Homo sapiens: one gene and its partners. The protein of the gene in region 3 purifies or fractionates together with the protein of the main gene of each other region. This does not show direct contact. Each region holds a gene or a part of one and is shown on either strand. Other genes may lie near its edges. The genes, in order: CDC40, HNRNPC, CCDC12 and BUD31.

Region 1 (7,450 bases), on a different chromosome or scaffold from region 3:
TGAAAAGCAACAAGACGAAAACTCCTTTCAGAAAAGAATTTTTAGCATGGAGAATATTAAAAATGAAAAGGCACTTAGAACTTTTGATGGTTCTAAATTTAGGTGGCTACTTTTTAATTTTTTTTTCATTCTTTCATCACTCACATGAGGTTTTTTTTTTTTTTTTATGTTTTTTCTCCTTCACCAAACACATTTGAAATGCTTTACATGTAAACTGAAGATAGTCCAGGTACCAAGCATTTATTTATCATCATTTATCATCATTTCTGGATGGGCTAGATCAGCTCACAGATCCCTACAGCTTTGCCTGCCATCCACCTGCATTGCTGCAGGCTGTTTAACACTCTCACCTCCTCAAGTTAAGGTAGGCTAGCCAGTAAATAACACTTCCCCATAGGCTTACCTCAGACATCTTGCTTCACCCTACCATGGTACATTTTTAATTTAATTTTTGGTTTTATTTCAACAGCTTTTGGAGTAAAAGTGGGTTTTGGTTACATGGATGAATTATATAGTGGTGAATTCTGAGATTTTAGTGTATCCATCACCATGGTACATTATTAAAGAACTTTCTTTCAGTAACAGATTTTTTAACATAAAGGCCAAAGTTTAAATGAAATAGAAAACAAAATCACCACCACTGTTATAATGATCATGGAAAGTGATTTATGAAGTACAGGATTTACCATAAGCAGTACAGTGTCATCTTGTGATTTTTCTTCTTCCAGAAAGTTTCATGAAAGATTTATTAAATATATAATATCAAGAGTTTGCTTTTATTTGCATATTATTCCTTTGTTCCAGAGATAATTCTGAAGGTACTTTTTAAAAGTTGCTTATTCTGATATGCTATTTAAAATTTTTAGGGATATCCCTGTGGATTTCAAGTACATAGCAGAACCCAGTATGCACTCAATGCCTGCAGTGACTTTGTCTCCAAATGGTGAGTTAGTATGTAGATTGTATTTTTAAATGAGCTTCTAAGATACAGTGTGATTTCTTTATTCAAAAGAACTTTGGCCCCTTCCTTCTTGGGGAAGTTTGTCACTGTGCCATTATTTGTATAAGGTAATCTTTACAATATTAGAAAGAATTACTGGTTTTCATATGCAAGTCACCTCACCTACTTTTCTGTGTCTCTTTTTAAATAAAAATAAAAGAAACAATGATTTACAGCTAACATTGATTGAACATCAGATTTTTATTTAACAATCAGTTTTCTTTTCTTTTTTCTTTTCCCCTCCTCTCCCCTCCTCTCCTCTCCCCTCCCCTCTTTTCTTTTCTTTTCTTCTTTTCGAGACAGGGTCTCCCTTTGTTGCCCAGGCTAGTCTCAAACTCCTGGGCTCAAGTGATCTTCCCTCCTCAGCCTCCCAAGGTGCTGGGATTACAGGCCTAAGCCACTATGCCCGGCCAGAGTTTTCTTTTCTAATTCTCCTTCCAAACAGAATCACGTTCAGTAAATCATTTAATAATGATTTGGCCAAGGCAGAAGAATCACTTGAACCCAAGAGTTTGAGACTAGCCTGGGCAACATAGAGAGACCTCATCTCTACAAAATAAAATTTTAAAAATCAGCTGGCATGGTGGTGCACATTTGTAGCCCTAGCTACTTGGTCAGGCTGAGATGGGCAGTTTGGTTGAGCCAGGAGATTGACTATGATCATGTGACTGTACTCCAGCCTGGGCAACAGAGCAAGACCCTTCTCTCTAAAAAAAAAAATAGTAATAGTGATTTACTGTAAACTCTTTCAGGGGATAGGAAGTTTTGGTCTGATTCTCCATAATGAGAGAACACTTTAGCAATTCACTATAAAAGATTTTCTCAGGCAAAAATTAAGAAGATAAATCTATTTAATATTGTTTAATCCATTGTCTTTTACGTACAAGATAATTTGTGCTACAGATATACTGACAATATACTGATGTAATTATAGCTTTACATGAGAGTCTTAAAGTGGGAGTTCTGATGTTTGGGGGACCTTGTCATTGAAACCACTGTCAATTCACATAATTAACTCCAAGTGTAGGGCAAGGAAGAATTTGCTGTTCCATCAGGGCCTCTGACACAAGCAAATGGTAATAGTTGTCAAATGCTCTATCATTTTTATGAGAAGAGAAACCTAACTGAACCTTTTTTTGATCATTGCTAGATTATATACTTCGTCACTGTGCATCTATATTTCATGTAGCGTATTTTTAAACCACCTATTACAGATTTTGTGCCCATCTTGAACAAGGCCATTTACCCACTCAGGCATTATTTAAGTCTGTTTCCTTAGTAAGTAATGTTTACATGTACAGTTGGCCCTTTGTATCCATGAGCACCATATCCTGGGATTCAACCAGCACGAATCCAGAATATTCAACAAAATAAACAATAAAAAATAACAATACAACAATTAAAAACAACACAGCATAACAACTAGGTACAAAGCATTTACGTTGCATTAGGCATTATAAGTAATCGAGAGGTGATTTAATGTATACAGGAGATATGTAGGTTATATGCAAATACTATGCCATTTTATATAAGGGACTTGAGCATCTGTGAATTTTGGTATTGGGTAGGGGTGCAGATCCTGGAACCAATTCCCAACAGATACCAAGGGATGACTATATATAGGATGCAAGTATAGTCATGCATTCCTAACAACAAGGGTACTTCTGAGAAATGCAGTGTTAGGTGATTTTGTCATTTTGTGAACATCACACAGAGTACTTACACAAACCTAGATGGTATAGTCTACTTACCCTAGGCTGTATGGTATAGCCTGTTGCTCCTAGGCTTTACCCCTGTATGGCATGTTGCTGTTCTGAATAATGTAGTCAGTGGTAAGCATTTGTGTATCTAAACATAGAAAAGGTACAGTAAAATCTCAGCATAGAAAAGGTACAGTTAAAATTTAGCACTATAATCTTATGGGACCACTGTCATACGTGCGGTCCATCATTGACCAAAACATTGTTAAGTGGTGCATGACTATAGACGCTGCAGTTTAGGCTCTAGGGGCTTTGATGAATCCTAAGTAGAGAAAAGCATTGTAGCCTTTTAAAAAGTTACTATAATTTTTAATATATCTTTTTTTGTATAGTTTTATTTAATAACCCTAGGCTTTCTCACCCCTTAATCTTTCTTTATTCTGTAATTACCACAGATAAGTCTCTTTCTCCTATTTCCCATAGTTCTGTTGTCTATACTTACTATAAATTAATTTCATTTCACAACTTTTAGCTTATTTCTTTAACATTAAGCTTGGAATTTCTATATTTCCTTATTTTTTTAAAAACTTTTATATGAGAGTGCTCAATGATATAGGATCGTATATGCAAAAGCCATTAGTTTATATATTAATACCTCTTGCCAGTGACATATTTATAACATTTTACAGGTGGTATAGTAAATTTATTTTTTAGTATTATAAAGTATTTGGGAGCAAAACTTATATTAATCACAGTGAACATATTTAAAATAAAAAGTTTTAAAAATTGTTTTAGTCTTCCTCTAAAATACCTCATTTATTGAATTTACAGGAAAATGGCTAGCATGCCAATCAATGGACAACCAAATCTTAATTTTTGGAGCACAGAACAGATTTAGATTAAATAAGAAAAAAATTTTTAAGGGCCATATGGTAGCAGGCTATGCTTGTCAGGTGGACTTTTCACCAGACATGAGGTAAGTTTAAATCTTCTAATCCATTCTCGTATTCAAATATGATTATATAAACTGTTGTTGTACAAATAACACTTGACACATCACTCTCACATAATATGTTTTTATGAGAACTCGATGATCTGTCAAAATTGTCAAAATGCTGGATATAAAGGCAAGAACAAATTAGGAAAATTACATTTTGCTTTTTTTAGGTTCTTGCTTCAGTATATTCCCTTCTATTACTTAGGCTTATGCCCTTTAGCCACCTAATAAATCCCTGTCTATATAACCAATGCCTTATTTTCTCTGCTTTTCTAAGCAAGACTAGAAGTGCTATAATCACTGTATTGCTATGATTGAATGAACACCAGAAGAATTAATTGTGTATTACAGTGTTGCAGTTACAGCTTCACTACAGCTTGTCTGTGCTGAAACCTCAAATCCAGCTTTTGAATATTTCTAGGTCACACTGGATTTGTGAAGCCTACAGCATGGTTCTTAGTTAAAATGTATAGGCAGAAGTAATTTAGAAATCCCAGTAACTTTGTTTGTTTAGCCTAGTAATTGGGCCTACCTCTGATTCAGTCTTAGATGTATTCAAAAGATATTAAAGCCAAAAAGTAATTATGAAAGTGTTAGAGCCTACTGTGATAGAATAGATCTAAAGGTGTTCCCTAGCTATATGTGGAATTGGTTCTCCAGTCTCTGTTTCTGACTATCTAGAGACTGATTGTGTAACCTCATTCACTGTGGCTCCTGGGACTCCCAGTCTTCCCAGTTAAAAATAATTTTCTACTCTTAGATTGGTTGGGAGGTTTTTTTAATAGAATTTCAAATTATAGACTGCTTCATGTTCTACCATCTTATTCTGAGTATTGTATATTTGCATTGGATTTTTTTTTTAATGTTAACGTGAAAAGATAACGTCCCTATTCCTCATTCGCCTTACCAATTTAAGGTATTTTAATAATTTGAATTTATCTTTCTTCCCATTATAGTTATGTGATTTCAGGAGATGGAAATGGAAAATTAAACATTTGGGACTGGAAGACCACAAAACTCTACAGTCGATTTAAAGCTCATGATAAAGTGTGTATAGGTGCAGTGTGGCATCCTCATGAAACTTCTAAGGTCATAACATGTGGTTGGGATGGTCTCATTAAATTGTGGGATTAATGAGATTAATCCTTAAACTAGCTGGGATCATTTTTGATCCATTGTCATATTTATATTTAATTATTAAATGTATCTGATGATAACTTGATTTACAGATAATGTTGATGACATTGACCCTTTGTTTAAAAAAAGAAACTGTAAATTTGACATAATTTCATTTGCAACTTCATTTTGTTTTTTATAAATGTTATTTATACAGAAAGTGGCTATTGACTTTCTATTTGACAAGTAGTTATAATTGGCAAGCAGTTTGAGTTTATACTCATGACATACTGAAAGCATCTCTTTGGGGTCAAGAAAGAATCCCTAGTGGATTTGGGATTCTAGAGGAGGTGTTATAATTAATTATTCAGAAAAATGCATGTATTTACCTCTTCAACCAAAAGGGCAGTAAAGAATAGGGATAATATATTTTAATGTAAATTTGGAAGAAGGATAAAATCACCCACAGTTACTCTCCCTATTATTTTCACTGGGTCAAGTTTTAATCTTTTGGCTTCATGAGTTCCACTCCCTTTGATGATATATGTTGTATATTTTTAGTTGTAAAGCAGTAATCTTTAACTGTAGCATTCCTCTAATTATAAACAGTGAAAAATCAAAATCAGTCCAGAGTTCTTTTGTTGACTTAATTCCTGATCAGTATAGACAGGACTATATATATTTAATCAGAGAATTACATTATATCTGAAGATGGAGCTCAGGAGAATGCACCAAGACTTTGAATTGTATTTACATTCACTGTCAGTAAAGACCTGGCTACGCTTTGAGAAATCAGGATCTCCTAGGTCATTGCTTCGCAGCTGTGATTACTGAAATCCTCCTCATAGGAGATAAAGTACGAGGGGTAGAGTCCAAGATGTCAACTTGTAATTTCTTTGAAGTCATATGTTTTATCTTTAAAATTATTCTTATTTTACCTGTGAATATATACAACAGAACTTTTTAAGATTAAAAAATTTTTAAACCTCTATGTCTGAAAAAAAAAATGACACTCCTGGAAGATGGCTAGGGTTCCCCAGTTTGAGAAGCAGTGGCCATGGTGAAAAATAGTTTTTGAAAACATCAGATTATAAAATCAAGATAGTCCGGACGCGGTGGCACATGCCTGTAATCCCAGCACTTTGGGAGGCTGAGGCAGGTGAATCACCTGAGGTCAGGAGTTCAAGACCAGCCTGGCCAACATAGTGAAACCCCGTCTCTACTAAAAACACAAAAATTAGCCAGGCTTGGTGGCTGGCGCCTGTAATTCCAGCTACTCAGAAGGCTGAGGCAGGGAGAATTGCTTGAACCCAGGAGTGGAGGTTGCAGTGAGCTGAGATCATGCCACTGCACTCCAGCCTGGGCGACAGAGCGAGACTCCACCTCAAAAAATAAAATCAAGATAACCTCTTGAATGTAATAGCTCATAGCACTTTAATTTGGCAAGCCATTTTTCCTGTTTTATTATAAATCTATATTAGATGTTTGAATATGGTTTGAAATATTTCACTACCGTGCTGAAAAAGGTTGGTTGATAGCAGCTTGGAGTGCTAACTGGAAGATCAAAATCATGTCTCTTGCTGATAACCTAAGAGCATTAAGCTCTGAGTCCAGTGAGGTCATAGCAGTGTATGCTCCTTGCCCTTACGGAGTGTCTGTTTTTAGAAATTTAGATTTTAAAAGGCGTGGGACATACGACCAGGCCCTATAGCCACATAAATATAAATTTCATAGAAAAAGAATAAAAGCGGAGATATATTTTTTGACACAGAGGCACCCAAAGAAATACAAACATTGCCTAGCTGCTGCCATTTCTGTAACTGCCCAGAAGGGTGACAGATTTCTGAAGGGGAAAGGATTCAGATATGACCTTTTCTTTAGTCCCAACCACTAGTTTTAACAAATGTGAATTATTGAAATGTGAAGGGACAAAAAGAATCATACATTTAAACTGTCTTGTTCAGCATACCAATATTGTATGTTACAAATCATCATTTCTAAATCTGGATTGATTCTGTTGTGTTTTTGACTGTTTCTAAAGTAAGTGTGTATAAAAGTCTCCTTTTTAAAAAGATCATATTTTTAAATAAAGCATTTTTTGTAGAAAGTGCTATCAAAATGTTCATCTTGTTCATCTTTAGTCTCCTTTTGAGTCTTAAGTGTATTGAGACACTAGATTAAGCCATTTGCAGTTTTAAATGGGTCATATGGAGAGAAATAATGCTTTAGAGGTGGATGTGGTTTATTCAGGTATATCAGTGGGTTTATAATTATATAATAAAATACATGGCAGTACCCTCAGAGCACATTAACACATTCCATATTCATTTAGTGGTGGCACTAAGTCATGACTACACAACATTTTAGAGTACATAAATGAGTGGGGTTATATTTCAGCATAAAAAGTCTCAAGATCACATTGTTACTGGACTTAGGTGGTTACCATCTGGCTCCTTTTCCTTATTGCAGCCTTTTTGTCATATCCAGGACAGATTTCCTTCCTAAAAGTTACGATAAAAGTGATGCTTTAGTGAAATATTTACTGGAATGAATATTTAAATATTGAGTCACAAGCTGGAAATATTTTGTCCTAAACAAGGAACAAATTTTAAGATTAAAAAACGGGAGTAGTGTTAC
Region 2 (7,450 bases), on a different chromosome or scaffold from region 3:
TATGTGTTTTTGGATTTATTTATATTGTATCAGGAAAACATTATTTGGTGCTCTAACTTGATTCTGTCACAGTACACTGGAAGGTCAGGCATTTTGTTTAAAGAATTGATTCTAAGGCCGGGTGTGGCTGCTCATGCCTGTAATCCCAGCACTTTGGGAGGCTGAGGCGGGTGGATCACGAGGTCAGGAGTTTGAGACCAGCCTGGCCAACATGGTGAAACCCCCATCTCTACTGAAAATAAAATTAGCTTGGCGTGCTGGCGCTCGCCTGTAGTCCCAGCTACTCGGGAGGCTGAGGCAGGAGAATCGCTTGAACCTGGGAGGTGGAGGTTGCAGTGAGCCATCGCACCACTGCACTCCAGCCTGGGCGACAGAGTGAGACCCCATCTCAAAAAAATGATAATAATTGATTCTAAACTGGGGAATAGAGAGATTCCCAATTTAAAATCTTCACAGTGGTTCTCAAACGTTAGCCAACACCAGAATCAATAGGGCTAGTTAAAACAGATTGCTATGATCTCTACCACAAGGGTTTCTAATTAAGTAAGTCTGGGGTGGGCCCTGAGAGTTTGCACTTCTAGTAAGTTCCAGGTGATGATGCTCATGCATCACTCATTCTGAGAGGTGCCCCTTTAGAAGAAGGGATCCAAACCTCAGGCAGGTTTTGACAAAGAATAACCTAGAGATACTTTTTTTCTAAAACTATCTCTGAGCTTTAGGTAAGGATACTTTTTTTCTTTGAGAGCCTCACACTGTCACCCAGATTAGAGTGCAGTAGTGTCATCTCAGCTCACTGCACCCTCTGCCTCCCGGGCTCAAGGGGTGCCCTCAGCCTGCTGAGTAGTGCTGCTAATTTTTTGTATTTTTGGTAGAGGCAGGGTTTCGCCATGTTGCCAGGCTGGCCTTGAATTCCTGAGCTCAGGTGATCCACCCGCCCCAAGCCTCCCAGAGTGCTGGGATTACAGGTGTGAGCCACGCCGCCTGGCCTCAAGGAATATTCTTGATTGAAAATGGTGCTAAAGTTGGTCTTTTTATGAGTGGTAGCTCTTCAGTTTAACATAAATAACATCTTGGGAGATACTGAGCTTTTTGATATTGAAAGATAGAATTGGTTTCTTTTCACATTTTTCTTTATTTTTAAGCTTATGTCTTGTGGCACCTGTACAAAGGACTTGGTTGTGGTTGAGCTATAAAGTTATGTATCTTGAAAATTGATTACCAGGTTTGGGCTGTGGCTCCAAATAAGAAAATGAAATGTTTCACCATAACTGTATTTCATAAACAGGAAAAGAACATTCAGATGTATATTTCTTACAATTCTTCACAAACTTTTTCCGCAATTTGTACATTCATACAGTTTTCACACATCAAATGTAAAAATTAACTGTCATTCCTACACTGTTCTTTTTAAAAATGTATGGTACTTGTTGCTGCTGTAGTCATTCATGTATAGTTGGCTCAAGGAACACTTCTAAAAGCTCAATTAAAAATTTTTTTTTTGAGACAGGGTCTCTCTCTGGCCTGGCTGAAGTGCAGTGGCGTGATCAGAGCTCACTGCAGCCTCGAACTCCTGGGCTCAAGTGATCCTCGCTCCTCAGACTGCTAAGTAGCTGGGATTTCAGGCTACCACACCCTGCTAATGTTTTTTGTTTTTAATAAAGTCTCGTCATGTTTCCCAGGCTGGTCTCAAACTACTGAGCTCAAGCCGTGCTCTACCCTGGCCTCCCAAAGTGTTGGGATTACAGGTGTGAGCCACCACACTTGGCCTTAAAATATTTTAATTTCCTCAAATTTACAAAGGAGAATAAGACCTCATGGCTAAATTGAACAGTGAGTGCAGCTAGTTCATTGTTTGCACAAGGAACTACAGTCTAATTGCAGTTCCTATTTTAGCTGATGAAACAACCAGTTTGTCATGGAAATTATTTTAGTGTGGTATTATGTACCAGATTTTTAGAATCCATAACTTGAAATTAGCTTTACACGCTACATAGTAAATAGTGGACTACAGAAACAAAAGTATTAACATAAGGACCTTAATTTTTTTCACCTATTTTATGACCTTAAATATTCAGTATTTTTTTAATTCCATCTGTATTTTCGTTTTGTCAGTGAGTGGAATAATGTGCTCCTTATTTAAAACATCTTTTCCCCTAACAGTAGAACCTATTAGGTCTTGTGGTTTGATCACTCACTGGTTTTGAGAATAGATGAGTCATCTCTAGTATAGATCTTCATGGTAGGCCATTCACCTTCAGTCTATTACTCATAGCAAAAACTCCACGGACTTTTTTAAGTTTAAAACCCATGAATCTGCTTAGGTTTTATAATCTCAGTATTTGACATTTGCTCACTATTTCATCTCTATTTGTTGGCCCGGTTTTTCTGTATTTTCTTTGCCCAAACTGCTCATTATCAAGATGAACATTTGGGATATACTCTTTTTGAGACCCTCAAGGGCATATTGACATGAATTTAGTTAATTTTAGTCATCTATTGATGTTGAAGAATTGTGAAGACAGTCACTGGTAGAGGTGATTCTATGGAGGCTATCCCATCCCAGTGGAATGTTAATGCTTTACCAAAATGTGTTAGCTGCAGTAGACAGATGTTTCTGTCTTGGGGGTTTAGGGCACAACATTTCTGAGGAACTCTGACTCAATCTGTCCCTTCTCCTTTCACAGGGCAGCAAGGCGAACCCCATCCCTACTCACTGGAGCTCAGCTTTGATTTTTAACCTCCCTTCCCCACCCTTCCAGAACACACACATTCCATTCCAAAACTGATTTTATAAAGACATTTTAAACATAATGATGCAACTTGGTGTGCACTACAGCAAATGTACAGGTGTTTTTTTTTTAATTGTTTCCAAAACCGGGACCTGGATTTAAGATGTAATTTTTAAAATTTCTATTTCTATTTTTTCTGCAGCAGTTGGGTTAGAGGAGGAGGAGCCTTTTAGCCTCTCATAAACTGACCTCTCTACTTCCTCGTGTATTTTTAAGATTGATTGATGATGTGGAAAGGGCTTTGCTTGTCTGCTACTGAAAACTTTATCCTTGCGGTTTTTGTGGAAACTGCTTTTGGAAAGAGAAAAGAAATGAACTTTACTGACTTGACATTTTTGCACCTCCCGTTTTTCTAATCTGGGCTATTTTTATTTTTGTTTTTTTACAGTGAGATTTTTTTGATCTTCAGCTACAGTAAGTTATTCCAATTTTTTTTTAACATTTTTCCTGACTTTCCGCTGATTTCCTTTTTATTGTTGTTACTAGTTACTATTACTTATTATTATTATATTAATACTTATGATGGTGATGATGATGATGATAATGACACTGATGATTTTTAACCGGATTAAAATCGAGTTTTTCTGAATGTTTCTAAGAATTTCTCCGGCCTCCTGATTGACTTTGGAGTTTTGCATCTTGGGAGAGAAAGCGAAGGCATTAGTATTTTTAAGTGGTTTGATCACGTAAACCTTTTCTCTCCCAACCCCACCCTTGCCCTCATCCCCTTCCCCACACTGAAAAGAATTTTACTGGCTGTTAAGTCTATGACCTTATTTTTCCTGATCTTTAACTTAACTGTTTTAGAGCATCTCTGGACGTCTGTATTTTTAATTTTTTTTATTTTTGTTTTTTTATTTTTAATCTTTCATTTGTTAAATTTTTAAACTGTGCTGCAATAAAATGTGTGTGGTACTACTTAACACTTATGATCGTGATGGCATTTTCCCTGAAAGCCATCTTCCTCCTGTTTCCCTTGAAATCCCATCCTGCTTTTCCTGTACACTACCCCTCACAAACCACAAGCTGCAGCAACATGGATGCCCAGCCTGGAGCAGCAGCAGCCAGGATGACCTGGAGCCAGGGGGGCCTTCGGAACAGATGCACACCCTTCCTGGGTGATGGTAAGAGGTGTGAGGTCCACTTGGATTCATTACAAAGACTAGGAAATAAACCCGTTTAACAGTTTAGCTGATGTGTATAGGTCATAGCATCTGGAAGTGTTTGAAACTTTTGTGTGTGCATCTTGAGGTGTTTCCCAAGGGGGACCACCTCAGTTATTTGTAAACTAATGGAATAATATGAGTTGCTAATTAACTTGGGCTGATTAGAACATTTTGGATACTTGGAAAGAGCAGCTGAAGTTTAAAATGAAAGTGGCTTGTTTTAATGATTAGCAACAAGAAAACATATTGGGGAGTCCCTTTTTTTAGATTGTTACAAATCAGTAAACATTTTCTGTCATTTAACATATTCCTTGGGTTTGTGACATTTTTGGATTATATTCTATTTAGACTTTTTATCTCATTAATATTTCACAAGAGTCAAACCATAGGAGATACAACATAATATTAAAATGCTGTCTCACTGGAGGGCTTTTAAAAATTTGAAAAAAGGTAGGCTTTTTGACCTCACAAAGCAGGGAAATCTGTTTAACCTCTACATCCAAATTAGGAACTGTCTAAGGCTGACCCCTTTTACAGTGGTGACTCAAGACCCAGCTAGATTTTGGGAATTCTAATGTGAATTCATAGAGTTCTAATGCTAGATTAGGAACTCTAATGTGTTCTGATGTTAAGAAGGAGTGTATTCTGTGTTATTCACAGGAATGGTGTAGAGATTAGTAAAGATGTGGATAGCCAAAGAGAAGTTGAGCAACCCGTAGTATTTTACTCACTGCAGCAAAATGTTTTGATAACCATTTTAGAGTTGCTCTGATAGGTTTCAAGCTGGGAGATAATTAGATTTTATTTTAAAATATTTCTATTTTTTGTAGAGACAGGGTCTCGCTATGTTGTCTAGGCTGGTCTTGAACTCCTGGGCTCAAGCGATCCTCCTGCCTTGACACCCCCAAAGTGTTGACATTACAGGCATGAGCCACTGCACCTAACCTGGAATAATTTTTTGAAGGCATATTCGGTACTGTTGTACTAGGGTAAATCACAAACTTGCCCCCTTATACCATACTCGGATGAAAAGTGAAATCTAGTTAAAGTGAACACCAGAGGTACACTCAAAACAGAATGGGAGAAAAAGCAAAAGATTCCTGGAAGTTATCTAGAAAAAGAATGGGAATCTTTATTTTTTAAATAAGTGCAAGTTTTATTGATGCTCTCTATTGTATGAGAGCTATTTTTTCTTCTTTGCTGCTGTCAGTGTACGGAAGCTGTTCACTATAGGTTCAGTTTGATTTATTCCTTGTTAATTCTACAAATTTATTATTTTTATGGGACATGTTGTGTTTGGGGATATAAAAAATAGTTTATTATGTTTAAGGGCTTCGCAGCTTAGTGAGGGAGACACATGAATGAAATAATGTCCATATATGATGAGAGGTAAACACATATCCTATAGAAGCATGCCAAAATAAGCTGGGGGCGTTGGTACCTGCCTGTAAGCCTGTAGTCACAACTAATTGGAAGGCTGAGGCAGGAGGGTCCCTTGGCCCAGGATTTGAGAGACTGTAGTGTGTGATGTGATTATCCACTGCACTCCAGGCTGGGCAACATAATGAGACCCCATCTTTTTTTTTTTTTTTTTTTTTGAGACAGTCTCGCTCTGTTTCCCAGGCTGGAGTGCAGTGGTGCCATCTTGGGTCACTGCAACCTCCACCTCCCGGGTTCAAGCGATTCTCCTGCCTCAGCCTCCCGAGTAGCTGAGACTACAGGCACGGACCACCATGCACGGCTAATTTCTGTATTTTTAGTAGTGACGAGGTTTCACCATGTTGGCCAGGCTGGTCTCAAACTCCTGATCTCATGGTCTGCCCGCCTCGGCCTCCCAAAGTGCTGGAATTACAGGCATGAGCCACTGCACCTGGCCTTAAATTTTTCTATTTTTAGTAGAGACAGGGTTCAGTAGAGATGCCATGTTGGCCAGGATGGTCTCAAGTTCCTGACCTCAGGTGATCCACCCGCCTCAGCCTCCTGAAGTTTTGGGATCACAGGTGTGAGCTGCCGCACCCAGCGAGACCCCATCTCTTTTTAAAAAAAGAAAGCATGCAGAAATGGTTACCTAACTAACCCTGAGAGGTCAGGGAATCCTTTTTTTATTATTTTTATTTATAACTTTAAATTTATAAATTTATTCCTTCTACCTTAATCACATAAAGGGATTTTTTTTTTTTTTTTTTTTTAAATAAGACGGAGTCTCGCTCTGTCACCTAGACTGGAGTGCAGTGGTGTGATCTTGGCTCACCACAACCTCTGCCTCCTGGTTTCAAGCAGTTCTCTGTCTCAGCCTCCCGAGTACCTGGGATTACAGGCACCTGCTACTATGCCCGGCTAATTTTTTTTTTTTTTTTTTGAGATGGAGTCTTGTTCTGTTGCCCAGGCTGGAGTGCAGTGGCACGATCTCGGCTCACTGCAAGCTCTGCCTCCCAGGTTCACGCCATTCTCCTGCCTCAGCCTCCCAAGTAGCTGGGACTACAGGCGCCCGCCACTACGCCCGGCTAATTTTTTTGTATGTTTAGTAGAGACGGGGTTTCACCGTTTTAGCCGGGATGGTCTCGATCTCCTGACCTCGTGATCCGCCCGCCTCGGCCTCCCAAAGTGCTGGGATTACAGGCGTGAGCCACCGCGCCCGGCCCACCTGACTATTTTTTATTGTTTTTTTTTTTTTTTGGTGGAGACAGGTCTCATTTTGTTTCCCAGGCTGGTCTCAAAAACTCCTGGAAGATTTTAATTTTTAGGAATGTCTTTCTAATAACAGTATGGAAATGGTGTAGAGGAAATGAGATTGGAAGTAGGAGATTAATAAAGGAGATATTAAAATCCAAGAAAGAATAACGACCTGGCTTGGACAAAGGTAATGCTATGAGATTAGAGATTAGGAGGTAAAATTAGGAGCATCTCAGGATGGATGTGATAAGGTGGACAAGAACACAGATTTGGCATGATTGCTGGTTTCTAGCTTCTGGGATAGGGATAGATATTGGGGAATGAATGAAGGGAGCAGATTATAGTTTGAGGGTGGGAAAAAGAATATTTTAAACATCTTGGAGGTATTCAAGGAACATTCAAGTATAAGATGTTTTATTAAGTATCTGAGTACTATTTGAAAATCATTAGGTTTGGGCATATAGGGATGAACAAAACATGTCCCCTGCCCTCTTAGATATTATAGATCATTGAGGGAAGAAACAAAGTAAATGGCACTTTTCACAGTAAGGATCGATGAAGGAAAAGAAGAGCGTGGATGAGAAGATGGCAAGGGAACCAAAATTAGAACATGGAATTTGGGGGATGCTGCCAGGGAAGCTTAGCTACGTGGAAGTAGCTAATGGTGAAGCTCATTCTGTAAGAAAACCATATGTGAAAGCACAGATAATGAGGGGGAACAAGACTTGGCCTCCAAGTAAGAAATAATACTGGAAAATAATTACCAAGAATACATAGATGAGGGATGGAGTTAGAGAGGTAGGCAAGGACCAAACATTTCAT
Region 3 (7,450 bases):
CATGCTTCTGTCGAGTCTGGCCTCTGGCAGCAGCAACTGAAGCCTTGTTATTTATATTGGGGACAAGGGGTAGGTCTCTATGTGCAGAGCCTAAAGCAAACAGAGGATTATTAGGGGCATGTCTGAGTGTCATGAGTGTGTTTTCCTGGCAGAGCTCCAGTGTCTCTGTACTCTGAATATTAAAAATGAAAGTGTTCTTTGATCAAAGTTGCCAGTCTCTCTGGTCAGTGGTGGCCTCTGCAAGGCCTGCAGGCGCATCCTGGGCGTGGCCTTCCCTGTGGTCTGTTACTAGGAGGAGTGCCTCACAGCAGTTCTCTCTCTGGCCCTTGATGGGGCCTGTATGGCCAGGAGGGACCAGGGTGGCCAGGTGGAGGACCTTGTTCTCAGGGAACAGGCCATGTGGGACTGTCCTGTCCTTATCCTCTCTGCCTCCCTCCAGGGGCCCAGGGCAGCAGGTGAATGTGGAGTAGCCTCAAGATATAAGGGATGAGAAGGGAGGCTAGCGCCCCAAAGGATAAGCCTGGTAGCATGAGTGAGTGAAGTGGACCAGGGGCCATGAAACCCCCATGAGCAGTGTAGGCTTTGAGGCCAGTTTGCCAGTGATGGGGTTGGATCAGATTCATAATCTCAAAGCTTCCTTTCATTTCGCCATTCTAGAACTCTACTCTGGTTCTATACTTGACAGAGAACATCAACTTTCTCCACCTGCTTCCTCTCATTGGCACATGTGAAAAAGCACCCTAGGGGTGATTTCCCCTGAACCTCCCTGGCCAGCCCATGTCCCGGGCTCCTGCAGCTGGCCTGAAGCAGAGTAAAGTAAATAGAAAAGGTCAGCTACCCATTTTAGAAGGAAACTCTATGGAATGCAAACTTGGCATTCCCTGTTGCTTTGCCACAAAGAAGTTGCTTAGGGGTTGGCTGCCCCGGCCCAGCCACATTCCTGCCCTCTCTGCTGGGCACAACTTCTTTGCTTCCAAATGTCTTCTCAAGTCATTGAAAGGCTCAGAGAGCCCCAGGCTACCCATAAAGCTCTTTCTTGAGTGCCTTCTGAATTCCTTTATCCAGCTTGAGGCAATGTATGCTGAGCCCCTCCTGGAGCTGCCTGGTGCATTTAGGGCAGGCTGTGAAAGACAGACATGCAGCCGACACAGGGCCACGTGCATGGAGTGGGGCCTGCTGTGGAGAGGGTAGAGAGGCAAGTGGGGCAAAGGGGGCCCAGGAGAAGGGCGGTTACTGTGCCTCAGGGTGAGTAGGGACACTGGGAGGGGCCCACAGGGCCACCTCCTGGAGCTGGCTCTTTAAGCGTGATGGACGGGGAAGTGTGTAGCTGAGGGGGTGAGCAGGCTGTGGGGCCAGGACCACGTGAAGAAGCTTAGACTTGTTTTGGGGACACTGGGGTCCCTGAGTCAGAGGGAGGGCCAGTGGAGGCACTGAGGTGGCTGATGTGTCTGCTCCTGTGGAGAGACAGCAAAGCTCCACCCAGACACTGGCTGCCGGTATAGGGTGGACTTTGGGTGGCCTAGGGCATTTGGTGCAAAGGATAGTGTCTTAGAAGCCATTGGGCTTTCTGGGCTGCCCTCCTTCCCATAGACTCTGGGGGCAGAAAGCCCCAAAAAAGCATGGCTTGGTCTCTGCTTCCCTTTGGCTAGGGGACAGCCTGGCCCTAAGCCACAGAGACTGGCCACCAGCAGAGCTGAGGTGCTGGTGCTGCCTGACTCAGAACCCTGCCACAGTCTTCTGCTGCCTTATGGCCCCTCTGCCTGTTTCCTCTTTATGTTTTTGAGTACTTCGTTGGTTGTTTCTGTGTAGGAAGAATACTGATTAGAAATTCCGGAAACTACAGAAAATCAGAGAAGCAAGTAAAAATCACTCAGAGCTGGACATGGTGGCTCATGCCTGTAGTCCCAGCTATTCAGGAGGCTGAGACAGGAGGATTGCTTAAGCCCAGGAGATCAAGTCCAGCCTGAGCAACATAGGGAGACCCCCATCTCTTTTTTTTTTTTTTTTTTTTTTTTTTGAGATGGGGTCTTGCTGTTCTCGCCCAGGCTGGAGTGCAGTGGCACCATCTCGGCTCACTGCAACCTCTGCCTCCCAGGTTCAAGTGATTCTCCTGCCTCAGCCTCCTGAGTAGCTGGGATTACAGGCACCCGCCACCACATCTGGCTAATTTTTGTTTTTTTAGTAGAGATGGGGTTTCACCATGTTGGTTGGCCAGACTGTTCTTGAACTCCTGACCTCAGGTGATCCACCCGCCTCGGCCTCCCAAAGTGTTGGAATTACAGGTGTGAGCCACCATGCCCAGCCAAGACCCCCATCTCTTGAAAAAAAGTCAGTCCTAGAGATAACCACTGTCAACATTTTTGTTGTTTTTATTTCTTTTCTTTTAGCTAGAGCTAGTACCTTCTCCCCTTAGCAACTTCCTCATTCTAAAATGGGGGTGGCAGAACCATTGTTTGGCTCCAGTTGTCCTCAGAAAGGTGGCTTCCAGATGCCAGTGACTGCTGGTGAGTGCAGGCTGCTTCAGTATTTCCTGGCCAGCTGACAAGGTGTTAGGTGTTGGCCTGCCCTACTGCTCTGGCTGGCACCATCTCGTCACACCCTGCCCAGTCTCCAAGAGCTGTGGTGGCCCCGGACACTGTAAGGCTATGGGAGCTCCTAGGATAGCAGCCTGGACCTGCTTTGTGTGTGAACCTGTTGTCCTACTATTTGTTTCTTGACTTTCCTTTTTTATCTCCATTCTTGTCTCCTTTTGGATTTTTTTGTTTTTAATTATTCCACTTTCTTCCTCTGTTAACTTGTTAATTGTATGCTGTTTTCCCTTTCTTTTAGTGATTTCCACAGGCATAACAACATACATCCTTAACTTATCAAAGTCTAATAGAAAATAGTAGTATTTTTACCATTTCCTCTACAGTGCTTAGGACCTTAGAACACTTTAAGGCTATTTGCCACTCTGCCTTTTACACTATTGTTGCTATATTTTAAATACTATAAGTTGTTATTACTCTTTTATACAGTCAATATTCATTTAAATTCTCTTTTCCCCCTGCTTTTTTTTTGAGACAGGGTCTTGCTTTGTCACCTAGGCTGGAGTGCAGAGTGTGATCATAGCTCTCTGCAGCCTTGAACGCCTGGCTCAAGCAATCCTCTTGCCTTAGCCTCCGAAGTAGCTGGGATTACAGACACAAGCCATTGTATTTACCCTTTCTGAGGCATTTTATTTTTTCCCTGCAATTCCATGTTTCCGTCTGAGATCATTTTCCTCTAGCCTAAAGTATTCCTTTTAGTATTTCTTGAATAACGGATTCACTGATAACTGATTCTCCTAACCTTTCTTTGTCTGAAAAAGTCTTTCTCTTGAAGGCTTCTTAACTAGATTTAGAATTTTGTGTGACATTTATTTTGTCCACACTTCTGAGATACCATTTCATGGTCTTATGGTTTCCATAGTTGCAGTTGAGAAGTCAGTAGTCTGTTTTAGTTTCTGCTTAAACACACTTTTTTTTTTCTCTCCAGGCCCATGAGATTATATGAGGTTGGTGCAAAAGTAATTGTGGTTTCTGCCACTATGTTCAATGGCAAAAACCACAGTTATTTTTGCATCAACCTAATGGGAAGCTCTGCTCAGTCTCTCAGCTTTTCAGCTGCTGCATGTAAATAGACATGCTTTAAGGGGAAAGAGGGACGTGATGTCAGGCTCACTTTGTTGTACTTCCCTTATCTCCATGATTGCAGCCCCTGAAATCCTTGCTGTCTTGGTACTTCTCTAAAGCCATTTAAAATACATATATATACATTTTTTTTTTTTGAGACAGTCTGCAGCCTAGGCTGGAGTGCAGTGGTGCGATCTCAGCTCACTGCAACCTCTGCCTCCTCAGTTCAAGCGATTCTCCTGCTTCAGCCTCCTGAATAGCTGAGATTACAGGCATGTGGCACCATACCCACCTAATTTTTGTATTTTTAGTAGAGACCGGGTTTCGCCCTGTTGGCCAGGCTGGGCTCAAACTCCTGACCTAAAGTGATCCACCTGCTTTTATAAGGGAGGTTAAATCTTGGGCCTGTGTTGGAAAGGCCAGGTCCCCAAGCTGAACCCCCCCATGCTCCTTGACCTCTCCCAGAGACTCCTGTCCTTTGGTAGTGGTGGAATTCCGGGGGTGGGCAGTTAAGTGGGCATTAGGGAGGGGAAGTCTCTTAGCTCTCCACGCTAAGGGGACTGGAGGTCAGAGACTGCACCATTTTCACGCGATCACACAACAGTGGCTGCACATCAGATTAACCCTCCAAGAGTGAGTCTGGGGAGGGCGTGGACCCAGCTTGATAGAGCTGGATGCACCCAGCACAGCCGTAATGTTTCTAAATGTGGAAACTGAGGCCCAGAATGAGACCTTCCCATGGTGGTCGGGATCTAGATGTTCTTGGCTGCTTGGCCAGTGCTCCGCTCTGGGGGTGGCAGGGCACAGTGGGCGCAAGGCTCTGCTCCCGCCTCTTGCTTCTGGTTCACTCCTCCAGTTGGCCTTCTGAAGCCTCGGGCAGTGGGTGGGTCTGGAGGCATGGGTGCGTGTTGCTGCTGTGAGTTCTGGGTACAGTTCCCTGTGGCCTCTCCTCTCTCCTTCTGATTTCTCACAGAACCCTGGAGACCGTTTCTGAAAGCGACAGTTTTTTTTCTTACTAATCCCTGCAGTTTTCTTCCCACACCCAGTTTCTCTTCCTCATTTCTCCCCACCCTGTTGTGAACGAAAGCCTTTGCACCCAGTCATGCCCCACTTTGTCTCCCTGTACCTCTGTGACCTGACATGTACCTCCAGGCCCGAGGCAGGTGTTCAAGGATGGGGGACGGGGTGGGGTATCTCTGGGCCTTCTGGGAGTGCAGGTGGGCTTCCTCCACACAGGCTATGCTGGTACTGCCCCATCGCCCGCAGTGGTTCAGCCCAGCCCCAAGGCTCCAGGCTCAGGGGCCCTGGCAGGAAGGAAGGAGATGGTAAGTAAGCTGGGGGCAGGAAGCAGGTGGAGCCCTTAAATAGGAGAGTGAATAGCATCTGAAAGCCCCTGAGTCCAAAGCACTGCCGCTTGCTAGCTGTGTAGCCACAGACACCCCTGCCTCTGGGAAAGCTTGCTTTTGCAGGGCCTGAGGAAGTCAGCAGCACTTTTACCTGGTCCAGACAGAGGGCTTGGGAGATGGCAGACTGTGGGAGGCCTGTTGGGAAATTGTTTCCTGCCTTAGAGGCCCAGGACTTTTCTGAGGGACCACTGGTCAAGAACCGAAAGAGGTACTGGGGAAGGAGGAGGACCTGCGGCCTAGTCTCACCTGGCCAGCATCTGAGGGGCCACTCCTGCATCCCCTGGGGCTAGGGGTCTGTCCCACTGCCTCTGCCTTGCCTTTCTTAGACCCTGCAGCCCCCAGGACCTCTCGCCCTGCCGCCCTGTGGAGTTACCAGGGACACATTTTCCTGGGAGCCTGCTTCTGTGTGTGTGGGGCTAGGATTTGATGAGCCCCTGAGCCAGAGAGGACCCCAGTGAGTTCTTGGTTCAGCCACCCCTGCCTGAAAAGACTGAGGCAGGAAGAACATAAAAACATAGTAGCTAGCCGCAGCTCCTGCCGGGAGATTCTGGCCCCTTGTGGCTCCTCTCTCTTCATGGAGGCCTTTGGGGCTGTTCAGTTCTCACTGCTGTCCTGGTGGACTGTGGCCTTCCCAGCCTTGCACATGGTCATGCCTATTTTCACAGCCCTCACTGGCCACTCTCAACAGTCTTGGAGCTGAGTCAGCCTCTCGTGTGCTTTGTGCCTTGACCCTGTCCGCGTCATTGCAGGCCCAGGCGCCACCTCCTCCTGGAGTGTCTCCCCTCCACATTCCCACAGCTGTAGGCAGCCACGCCCCTCTGGAGCCCTCCAGCACCTGCTTCTCTGTCCACATGTCACTCCTCACTGCCACATGCCCCTGGCCCAGCACACCCAGATGCTTTTCTCTAAGTAGTTGAGGCGTATTCCATGGCATGAGCCCCAGGGCAGGAAGGCTCTGAAGAGGGGCCAGACTTGGGGAATTTGTGGGTGACCACTGGCCTTCTCTTTTGGGAATCACTCAGCCTAGGAGCTTTAGCCCTGGCTGGGAGTTATACATTGCCTTGAGCTAAGATGTGCAGCCACTGCTGTGTGATCCTATGAAAAGGGTACAGTCTCTCTGACCTCCAGTCCCCTTATCTGTCAAATGGGATGATCCAGGAGAGACACCCTGTGAATGCTCCCTAGGCGTCCTTGGCCCAGCTCTGGAAGAGAACCGTACTCCAACAGAGTAGACAGGGCCTCTGGAGGGCAGCCAGTCCCGCTAAGTGGCAGGGGACGGTGCCAAGGGGCCTGCCTGATGACACTCCATTCTGTGCTTCTCCTCCTTACCAGGCTATCTCCAGAGAGTGCAGAGGAAATTCAGGAATTCACGGGCTATGCAAATTGTATGAATGAATGAATGAGACCATGTCACACACTGACTTCATCTCTGCTTGTTCCCTCTATTCTTGCAGGGAACTTAGGCTGCGGAACTATGTCCCGGAGGATGAGGACCTGAAGAAGAGGAGGGTGCCCCAGGCCAAACCGGTTGCAGGTAAGCAAGCTGTCCCTCTCCACCTCTGCTTCCTGGCACTGTCAGCCACCCTCCACCTCAGCAGGCTTTGCTCTCTGAGAATAACCAGCAGTACCAGGACAGGAGTTGGGCCTGCAGGCAGGACCCTTTGTTACCATCTCATGGCAGATGCACACAGTCGGCCTTCGGCAGCAGCAGAGGCTGTCGGGGCACTGAAGAGTCCTCTTGTGCCTTCTCAGTCCTGCTCACACCCTGAGACCGAGGCCTCCCAGGGATCTGAGTGGGGTTTGAAAAAGGCCACATCCTCTCAGAGGACTCCTGGCTGAGAAGTGGATGTGGTCATGGGGCCCTTGGGCAGCAGGGCAGGGTGATGGGTCCTGTGGGCCCTGGGTGGGTCAGAGACAGGGGCCAGTCATTCAGCCACACACAGCAGTGGACGGGCAGTGTGGAGCACTGAGGCAGGGGAGAGGGCCTGGCCCAGGGCTTGCCTAGACTCTTGCCATGGCGTGGGAACAGCACAGCCACCAGGAGCTTCTGGCCGTCCACACCACTCATGCCAGGAAGTTTCTTAGTCCTGCGGATCCCTGGGCCCTTGCCCTGGAGGGTCCCCATTTTAATTCTTTATGTTTGTTATTTATTTTATTTTATTTTATTTTATTTTGAGATGGAGTCTCGCTCTGTCGCCTAGGCTGGAGTGCAGTGGCATAATCTCAGCTCACTGTAACCTCAGCCTCCTGAGTAGCTGGGATTACAGGTGTGTGCCACTGCGCCTGGCTAATTTTTGTGTTTTTAGTAGAGACAGGGTTTCACCATGTCGGCCAGGCTGGTCTTGAACTCCTCCTGACCTCAAGTGATCCACCCGCCTTGGCGTCCCAAAG
Region 4 (7,450 bases), on a different chromosome or scaffold from region 3:
ACGGAGGAGGACAGTGAGACGATGCCACTGCGCCACGCTCGCCCCTGCACACTCACATATGTGGCAACCCTCCCACGAAGGACCTGCCACCATGCCATATAGGGACACACCTCAGAAACCCTTCCTTGACAGCTCTGGACAGGGAAAATTTGGCTCCCTCATGAAGGTAGAACCAGCTGCTGTTGACACCGAGGTTACATCTGTATGTCTATTTATAATATGTTCTGCAAATCCAACACACGTTTGCCAATCAAGAAAAAGAAATCGGTGTGAATGAGTCTCGTTATTCTGCTAAGTGAGCATGACAGACCCTGCGATGAGCAGACGTGGCTCTGCTACTGTTTGGGGACTTCAGGGGGGCCTCTGGGCTGGTACACTCTGGTGGGGGAAGAGGGCAGGAGACTATGCACTTGAGTCACACCCTTCTGGCCCAGAGCCCCCCAGAAAGAAGGGTCTTGTCCCCCAGGCCTGGTGCGGCCCAACACTTGGCCAGCCAGAAAGCCCTAGAACAGTGGCTTGTGTTTATTTTACTTTTTCAAGTTCTTTTTTTGGAAGAACAAGACCATAGTTTAAGTAAACAGGATCCTCTGGTGAAACCCAGGTAAGTCTACAGCGGGCTGTTTTGGCCACAGGGCTGAAGCAGCACCCCAGCCCACCAGCCCCTGACCTGGACTCCTTGTGGAATCTGGGCACTCAGAGGAAGGGGGCTTCTGCCACTCTGCCACCTGTCCCTGCCTCCATCAGAAAACCAACACCCCAGTCTTCCGTCGGGGAGGCGGCCCTTGCTCGCCCCCACTGCTCAGTACCCAAGTCCTCAGCATCCAGCCACAGCTCTCCATTGTCAGTCTCACTGCAGCATAAAGGGGACTCATGTGAAGAGGCCCCTGTGTGGAGCTGGGGAAAAGAAGGCCAGGCTGGCAGATGGGCGGTGGGGCCAACAACTGTGCTGAGGGGCTGCACTGAGCGGCCACTGCTGTGACTCTGCCTCGGGCCACAGCTGCCTTTCAGAGGGGCTTGGAACCGGATGGAGCTCAGCTCCTGTCCCTCAGCACCACTCCTGAGGCGCCTGGCCTAGGAGTGGTACTTGGAACAGAAAGTTCTGAAAGAAGAAACACAGTGGGCTGGGCGCAGTAGCTCATGCCTGTAATCCCGGCACTTTGGGAGGCTGAGGCGGGTGGATCACCTGAGGTCGGGAGTTCGAGACCAGCCTGAGCAACATTGAGAAACCCCGTCTCTACTAAAAATACAAAATTAGCCAGGCGTGGTGGTGCATGCCTGTAGTCCCAGCTACTCAGGAGGATGAGGCAGGAGAACCGCTTGAACCCGGGAGGTGGAGGTTGCAGTGAGCCAAGATGGCATCACTGCACTCCAGCCTGGGCGACAAAGCAAGACTCCGTCTTGGGGGGGCGGGAAAGATAGTGATGGTAATGTTAAAGTATCACTGTGAGGACTGAAAGGGACAGGAACTCACTGGTTGTCCTTCCCTGATGTCACCCTGCCACCACCTTGGGATTAGGGCTCCCCACCACCATTTCCTAAGTGAGGAAAGGGGTTCAGTAATTTGCCCAAAAGTGGAGTTGAGATTGACCCCAGACCTAACAAACACACAGCCACACGCTGCCTCACATGGATTCCTGAATACAGGGACCCACTCCCACGAGGGAGAGCCAGCAGGACATCCAGGGACAAAACGACATTCCAGCCCAACCAAATAACATAAGATCCCTTGCAGTCGACTAAGGCAGAATTTTGAGCTGAAAACAACACCAAGCTTGAGTGTCAGACATTACCACTTCCAGCTTGCTTTTGGGCACGCGGCAGATGCAGTTCGTCCCGAAGTTGGTGTCCCGTGTCTGAATGCACCGCAGGCAGCACAAGTTCTCATATCCTTGCTTTTTCCATTTTGCAATCAGGTTTTTGTCTGCATAGCCTTCTTTAATACAATATTCATAGAGTTCTGTCAAAAAGATGGGGAAAGAGCATCAGGCCATGGTCTAAAAACCTTCCCCACCCTTGATCAAAAAAAGCATTCAGGCCGGGTGCAGTGGCTCACACCTGTAATCCCAGCACTTTGGGAGGCCGAGGCAGGCGGATCACCTGAGGTCAGGAGTTCAGGACCAGCCCGGCCAACATGGTAAAACCCCGTCTCTACTAAAAATACAAAAATTACTCGGGCGTGGTAGCAGCTGTAATCCCAGCTACTTAGGAGGCTGAGGCAGGAGAATCACTTGAACCCAGGAGGCGGAGGTTGTAGTGACCTGAGGTCGTGCCACTGGACTCCAGCCTGGGTGACAGCGAAACTCCATCTCAAAAAAAAAAAGGCATTCAGTATTGCAACGGGACAGTCCTTGGAGGAGGAACAAAAAAAAAAAGTACTTAGGCCAGGCAAGGTGCCTCACACCTGTAATCCCAGCACTTTTGGAAGCCAACGCCAGAGGATCATTTGAGTTAAGAAACCAGCCTGGGCCAAGGGCCCATCTCCACAAAAAATTTAAAAATTAGCTGGGTGTGGTGGTGCACACCTGTAGTCACAGCTACTCAGGAGGTTGAGGTGAGAGGATCCCTTGAGCCCAGAAGGTTGAGGCTGCAGTGAGCCATCATTGCACCACTGCACTCCAGCCTGTGGAACAGAGCAAGACCCTGTTTCAAAAAAAAAAAAAAAAAAAAAGCCAAGAGCGGTGGACCACGCCTATAATTCCAGCACTTTGGGAGACCGAGTCGGGTGAATCACCTGAGGTCAGGAGTTCAAGATCAGCCTGACCAATATGGTGAAACCCCATCTTTACTAAAAATACAAAAATTGGCCAGGTGTGGTGGCAGGTGCCTGTAATCCCAGCTACTTGGGAGCTGAGACAGGAGAATCGCTTGAACCCAGGAAGTGGAGCTTGCAGTGAGCCAAGATTGCGCCACTGCACTCCAGCCTGGGTGACAGAGTGAGACTCCATCTCAAAACAAACAAACAAAAAACAAACACACACACAAAACTCAGCCAACGTTGGCTCCCCCTAATTTTCGTGGTAAGAAAAACCATGACTTGCACAGGTTGCGAGAATAAGGATTGTGGTTAGTTCAGTAACTCCAAAAGTGACGCGAGCTTCAAAGTCCAAGAGAGACTGACTAATTACCTCTGCTGATGGCTTTCCGCTTGTAAAAGAGGTCGAAGATGTAGCGGGTTTTCTGGTGGTGGATCCTGAAGATGGGCCACAGAGATTCCACTTTCCTCTTTCCCTCATGCGGTTCTGTTTCAGCTGGGGAGAAACAAAGAGTGTGTTTGGGGGAATAGGGTCGGTCTGCGCAGGATTTTCTTTTTGTAAGTAACTACTGATAATGAATAAATACCACTTTATACCCACTAGGATGGCTGTGGGTGGCAAGCCACCCAGGTGCCGAGGCAAGAAACCGAGGGCACGAGCTGTTCTAGTATAATAAAATAAATAAAATAAGAATAGTTATACTAGATATAGATCTTAGATATGATTATATATGAATATCATTAATCCTTAGTTTGTAGCAATTACTCTTTATTCCAATATTATAATAATCCTCACTCGACAATCATAACCTAGGAAACACCAGGCTATACAGAGATGGGAGCTGAGGGGACATAGTGAGAACTGACCAGAAAACGAGTGCAAGCCTTCTGTTATGCCCGGACAGGGCCACCAGAGGGCTCCTTGGTCTAGCGGTAACGCCAGCATCTGGGAAGATGCCCGTTGCCAAGCGGACCTTGGTCTAGCAGTAGCGTTAGTGTCAAGGAAAAACACCCGCTACTTAGCAGACCGGGAAAGGGAATCTCCCTTTCCCCGGGGGAGTTTAGAGAAGACTCTACTCCTCCACCTCTTGTGGAGGGCCTGACATCAGTCAGGCCCGCCCGCAGTTATCCAGAGGCCTAACTATCTCCCTGTGATGCTGTGCTTTGGTGGTCACGCTCCTAGTCCGCCTTCATGTTCCATCCTGTACACCTGGCTCTGCCTTTTAGATAACAATAGCAAATTAGTGAAAGTACTAAAAGTCTCTGATAAGCAGAAATAATGGCATAAGCTGTCTCTCTCTCTCTGCCTTGGTGCCAGGCAGGCAAGGGCCCGCTTTCCAGTGGACACGTGACCCATGTGGCCTTACCTATCATTGGAGATGGTTCACACTGCTTATCCTGCCCCTTTGTCTTGTATCCAATAAATATCAGTGCAGCCTGGCATTTGGGGCCACTACCGGTCTCCGCGTCTTGGTGGGATTCCCAGGCTCAGCTGTCTTTTATCTCTTTGTCTTGTGTCTTTATTTCTACGCTCTCTCGTCTCCACACACGGGGAGAAACCCACCGACCCTGTGGGGCTGGACCCTACAGATGACTATAATCAAAATTATGGCACAATAACAAGTGTTGGGAAGGATGTGGAGAAATTGGAACTCTCCTACGTTCCTGGTGGGAATGTAAAATGGTGGAGCCACTGCAGAAGAGTTAGGTGGCTCCTCAAGAAGTTAAACAGGGCTGGCCGGAATCGGTGGCTCACACCTGTAATCCCAGCACTTTGGGAGGCTGAGGTGGGCAGGTCACTTGAGGTCAGGAGTCTGAGACCAGCTTGGTCAACATGGTGAAACCCCATCTCTACTAAAAATACAAAAGAATTAGCAGGGCATGGTGGCGCATGCCTGTAATCCCACCTACTTGGGAGGCTGAGGTGGGAGAATCGTTTGAACCCAGAGGCGGAGGATGCAGTGAGCTGAGATCACACCACTGCACTCCAGCCTAGGCAACAAAGCAAGACTCCCGTCTCAAAAAAAGAAAAAAAAGGGAATGAAGTAAGTACTGATATATTCTACAACACAGATGAACCTTGAAACATCAAACTAACTGTGGCAATGGTCGTACAACTTTGTGAATATACTAAAAACCCCTTAATTGGATAATTTAACAGGTTCACTTTTACAGTATATGATTAATATCTCAATAAAGCTGTTATTTAAAAACAGAATAAGCCGCCGGGCATTTTGGGAGGCCAAGGTGGGCGGACCACGAGGTCAGGAGATCGAGATCAGCCTGACCAACGTGGTGAAACCCCATCACTACTAAAAATTAAAAAATTAGCCGGGCGTGGTAGTGCACGCTTGTAATCCCAGCTTCTCAAGAGGCTGAGGCAGGAGAATTGCCTGAACTCGGGAGGTACAGGTTGCAGTGAGCCAAGATCGCACCACTGCACTCCAGCGTGGGCAACAGTGTGAGATTCCGTCTCAAAAAAAAAAATAAAAAAATAAAAAATAAGCTAAGTAATTTAAACATAATTGTTTTAAATTAAAAATGTCTATTTTTGGATCCTTTTGTAATTCATGAGTGTGCTTGGGTGTTCACATCCATGTGTGAGACATGCCACTCTCAAACCTTGTCACAACGTTGGCACATTACCCATGTGACAAGAAAAAAAGTCTTTTTAATTACAGAATTAGAAAACATAGATTTTTAAAGACATTTAATGGTAACTTCTGTTAAAAGGTTGGTCCCGGCTGGGCACAGTGGCTCACGCCTGTAATCCCAGCACTTTTGGAGGCCGAGGTGGGTGGATCACTTGAGGTCAGGAGTTCGAGAACACCCTGGCCAACAGGGCAAAACACTGTCTCTACTGAAAATACAAAAATTATCTGGGCATGGTGGCACATGCCTGTAATCCCAGTTACTCGGGAGGCTGAGGCACGAGAAGTGCTTGAACCTGGGAAGCAGAGGTTGCAGTTAGCTGACATTGTGCCACTGCACTCCAGCCTGGATGACAGATGACCCTGTCTCAAAAAAAAACAAAACAAAACAAACAAAAAAAAGCCAAAAAACCAACCTTGGTCCCTATGCTTTCAGATCTATTTCTACAGCGTAATAATTAATCAAGATAATTCTAGGCCCACAGATGGGCATCCTAATCATCTTGAAGGCACTTCTAATTTCATCTCCCAGCCAAAGTCCTTTAGGGCTGAGGAAAAGCTAAATAAACTAGACCAGTCTACAGGTTCTGAGGGAAGTAGCCACAGCAGAAGCTGCTCCTTCAACACACGCAGGATCAGGTGGCACTCATACTTGCCGCAAGGCAGTTCTCTCTCTCTCAGCAGTCACAAGTTCATCTTTGTCTATGACCTCCTCAGTTTTTAGGGAAGAACAGAAGGGCGAAGAGTGGTCAAGAAGACTATCCCTCCCTGTCTCCAGCTTTTAAGCCATTCTATTACCTAGGAATTACAATTCAGCTCAACAAACAGAATGCTGTGATCCAAGCAGAAAAGCAGGTAGTAAAGATTCAGCAGGTACACATGTTAAGACGTGACTTGCTCCTCCTTGGCCTCTGCCATGATGGTGAGGCCTCTCCAACCACATGGAACGGTAAGTCCATTAGATCTCGTTCTTTCGTAAATTGCCCAGTCTCAGGTATGTCTATCAGTAGCGTGAAAATGGACTAACACACCCCCATCTCTACAAAAAATTAGCCAAGCGTTGGTCGGGCGCGGTGGCTCATGCTTGTAATCCTAGCACTTTGGGAGCCTGAGGCGGGTGGATCACAAGGTCAGGCGATCGAGACCATCCTGGCTAACATGGTGAAACCCCGTCTCTACTAAAAATACAAAAAAAAAAAAAAAATTAGCTGGGCATGGTGGCGGGCGCCTGTAGTCCCAGCTACTCCAGAGGCTGAGGCAGGAGAATGGTGTGGACCTGGGAGGCGGAGCTTGCAGTGAGCGGAGATCGCGCCACTGCACTCCAGCCTGGGTGACAGAGCGAGACTCCGTCTCAAAAAAAAAAAAAAGAAAAAAAAGAAAAGAAAACTTAGCCAAGCGTGGCAGTGGATGCCTGTAGTCCCAGCTGCCTGGGAGACTGAGGTGGGAGGAACACCTGAGCCTGGGAGGTGGAGGCTTCAGTGAGCTGTGATTGAACCACTGCACTCCAGCCTGGGCAACAAAGTGAGACCTTGTCTCAAAACAAAAACAAAAAGAAAACAGAACAAAGAATACTTCTGTCTGGAGGTAAAGAATATCTAAACACAAAGTAGGGTTCCTCCTTCCCTCAAAAGTCACCCTTTAGAAGATGAAGTTAATTTACTTTCAAGGACTTGCAAAATCTCTTCTATTCCAGCATGCTCCCATTTCCTTTATTTTGATAAAGAGCTGTTTCGGGAAGACATCTCTCAGCCCAAAATGACCGTGATTACTGCAATAGGCCCATCCAAATCTAAACTGCAAAACAAGTACTGAGTATTTAATAGAAGTTATCTGGTACGAACAGTTTTTTTAAAAAGGGGCAAAGTAATTTAACATTGATTTAATTTAGTAATTACTGCTGGAGGTACGACCTCATAATAACCATGATTAGGTTAGTTACAAGCAAGCATTTCAAAAGCTACTTTAAAAAGTAACTTCAGCTGGGTGTAGTGGCTCATACCTGTAATCCCATCACTTTGGGAGGCCGAGGTGGGTGGATCACTTGAGG

What was found.
Region 1: the proteins of CCDC12 (region 3) and CDC40 purify together in Homo sapiens (affinity purification with mass spectrometry; 2 studies listed by BioGRID and IntAct, with this or other methods). This does not show direct contact.
Region 2: the proteins of CCDC12 (region 3) and HNRNPC purify together in Homo sapiens (co-immunoprecipitation; 2 studies listed by BioGRID and IntAct, with this or other methods). This does not show direct contact.
Region 4: the proteins of CCDC12 (region 3) and BUD31 purify together in Homo sapiens (affinity purification with mass spectrometry; 2 studies listed by BioGRID and IntAct, with this or other methods). This does not show direct contact.

What each region holds. Positions count from the first base shown.
Region 1 is NC_000006.12:110,225,301-110,232,750, forward strand, and holds the end of CDC40 (pre-mRNA-processing factor 17), read left to right. Parts: intron 1-866; coding exon 867-943; intron 944-3,531; coding exon 3,532-3,676; intron 3,677-4,653; coding exon 4,654-4,831; 3' UTR 4,832-6,932; downstream 6,933-7,450. UniProt on the Homo sapiens protein: Required for pre-mRNA splicing as component of the activated spliceosome. Plays an important role in embryonic brain development; this function does not require proline isomerization.
Region 2 is NC_000014.9:21,259,064-21,266,513, reverse strand, and holds part of HNRNPC (heterogeneous nuclear ribonucleoproteins C1/C2), read left to right. Parts: exon of another isoform or gene 1-121; intron 122-965; exon of another isoform or gene 966-3,177; 5' UTR 3,178-3,203; exon of another isoform or gene 3,204-3,920; intron 3,921-7,450. UniProt on the Homo sapiens protein: Binds pre-mRNA and nucleates the assembly of 40S hnRNP particles. Interacts with poly-U tracts in the 3'-UTR or 5'-UTR of mRNA and modulates the stability and the level of translation of bound mRNA molecules. Single HNRNPC tetramers bind 230-240 nucleotides.
Region 3 is NC_000003.12:46,924,599-46,932,048, reverse strand, and holds part of CCDC12 (coiled-coil domain-containing protein 12), read left to right. Parts: intron 1-6,513; coding exon 6,514-6,593; intron 6,594-7,450.
Region 4 is NC_000007.14:99,411,936-99,419,385, reverse strand, and holds part of BUD31 (protein BUD31 homolog), read right to left. Parts: intron 7,442-7,450; exon of another isoform or gene 7,403-7,441; intron 7,198-7,402; exon of another isoform or gene 7,091-7,197; intron 5,409-7,090; exon of another isoform or gene 5,308-5,408; intron 3,249-5,307; coding exon 3,126-3,248; intron 2,648-3,125; exon of another isoform or gene 1,958-2,647; coding exon 1,791-1,957; coding exon of another isoform or gene 1,737-1,790; exon of another isoform or gene 225-1,736; coding exon of another isoform or gene 213-224; exon of another isoform or gene 1-212. UniProt on the Homo sapiens protein: Involved in the pre-mRNA splicing process. May play a role as regulator of AR transcriptional activity; may increase AR transcriptional activity.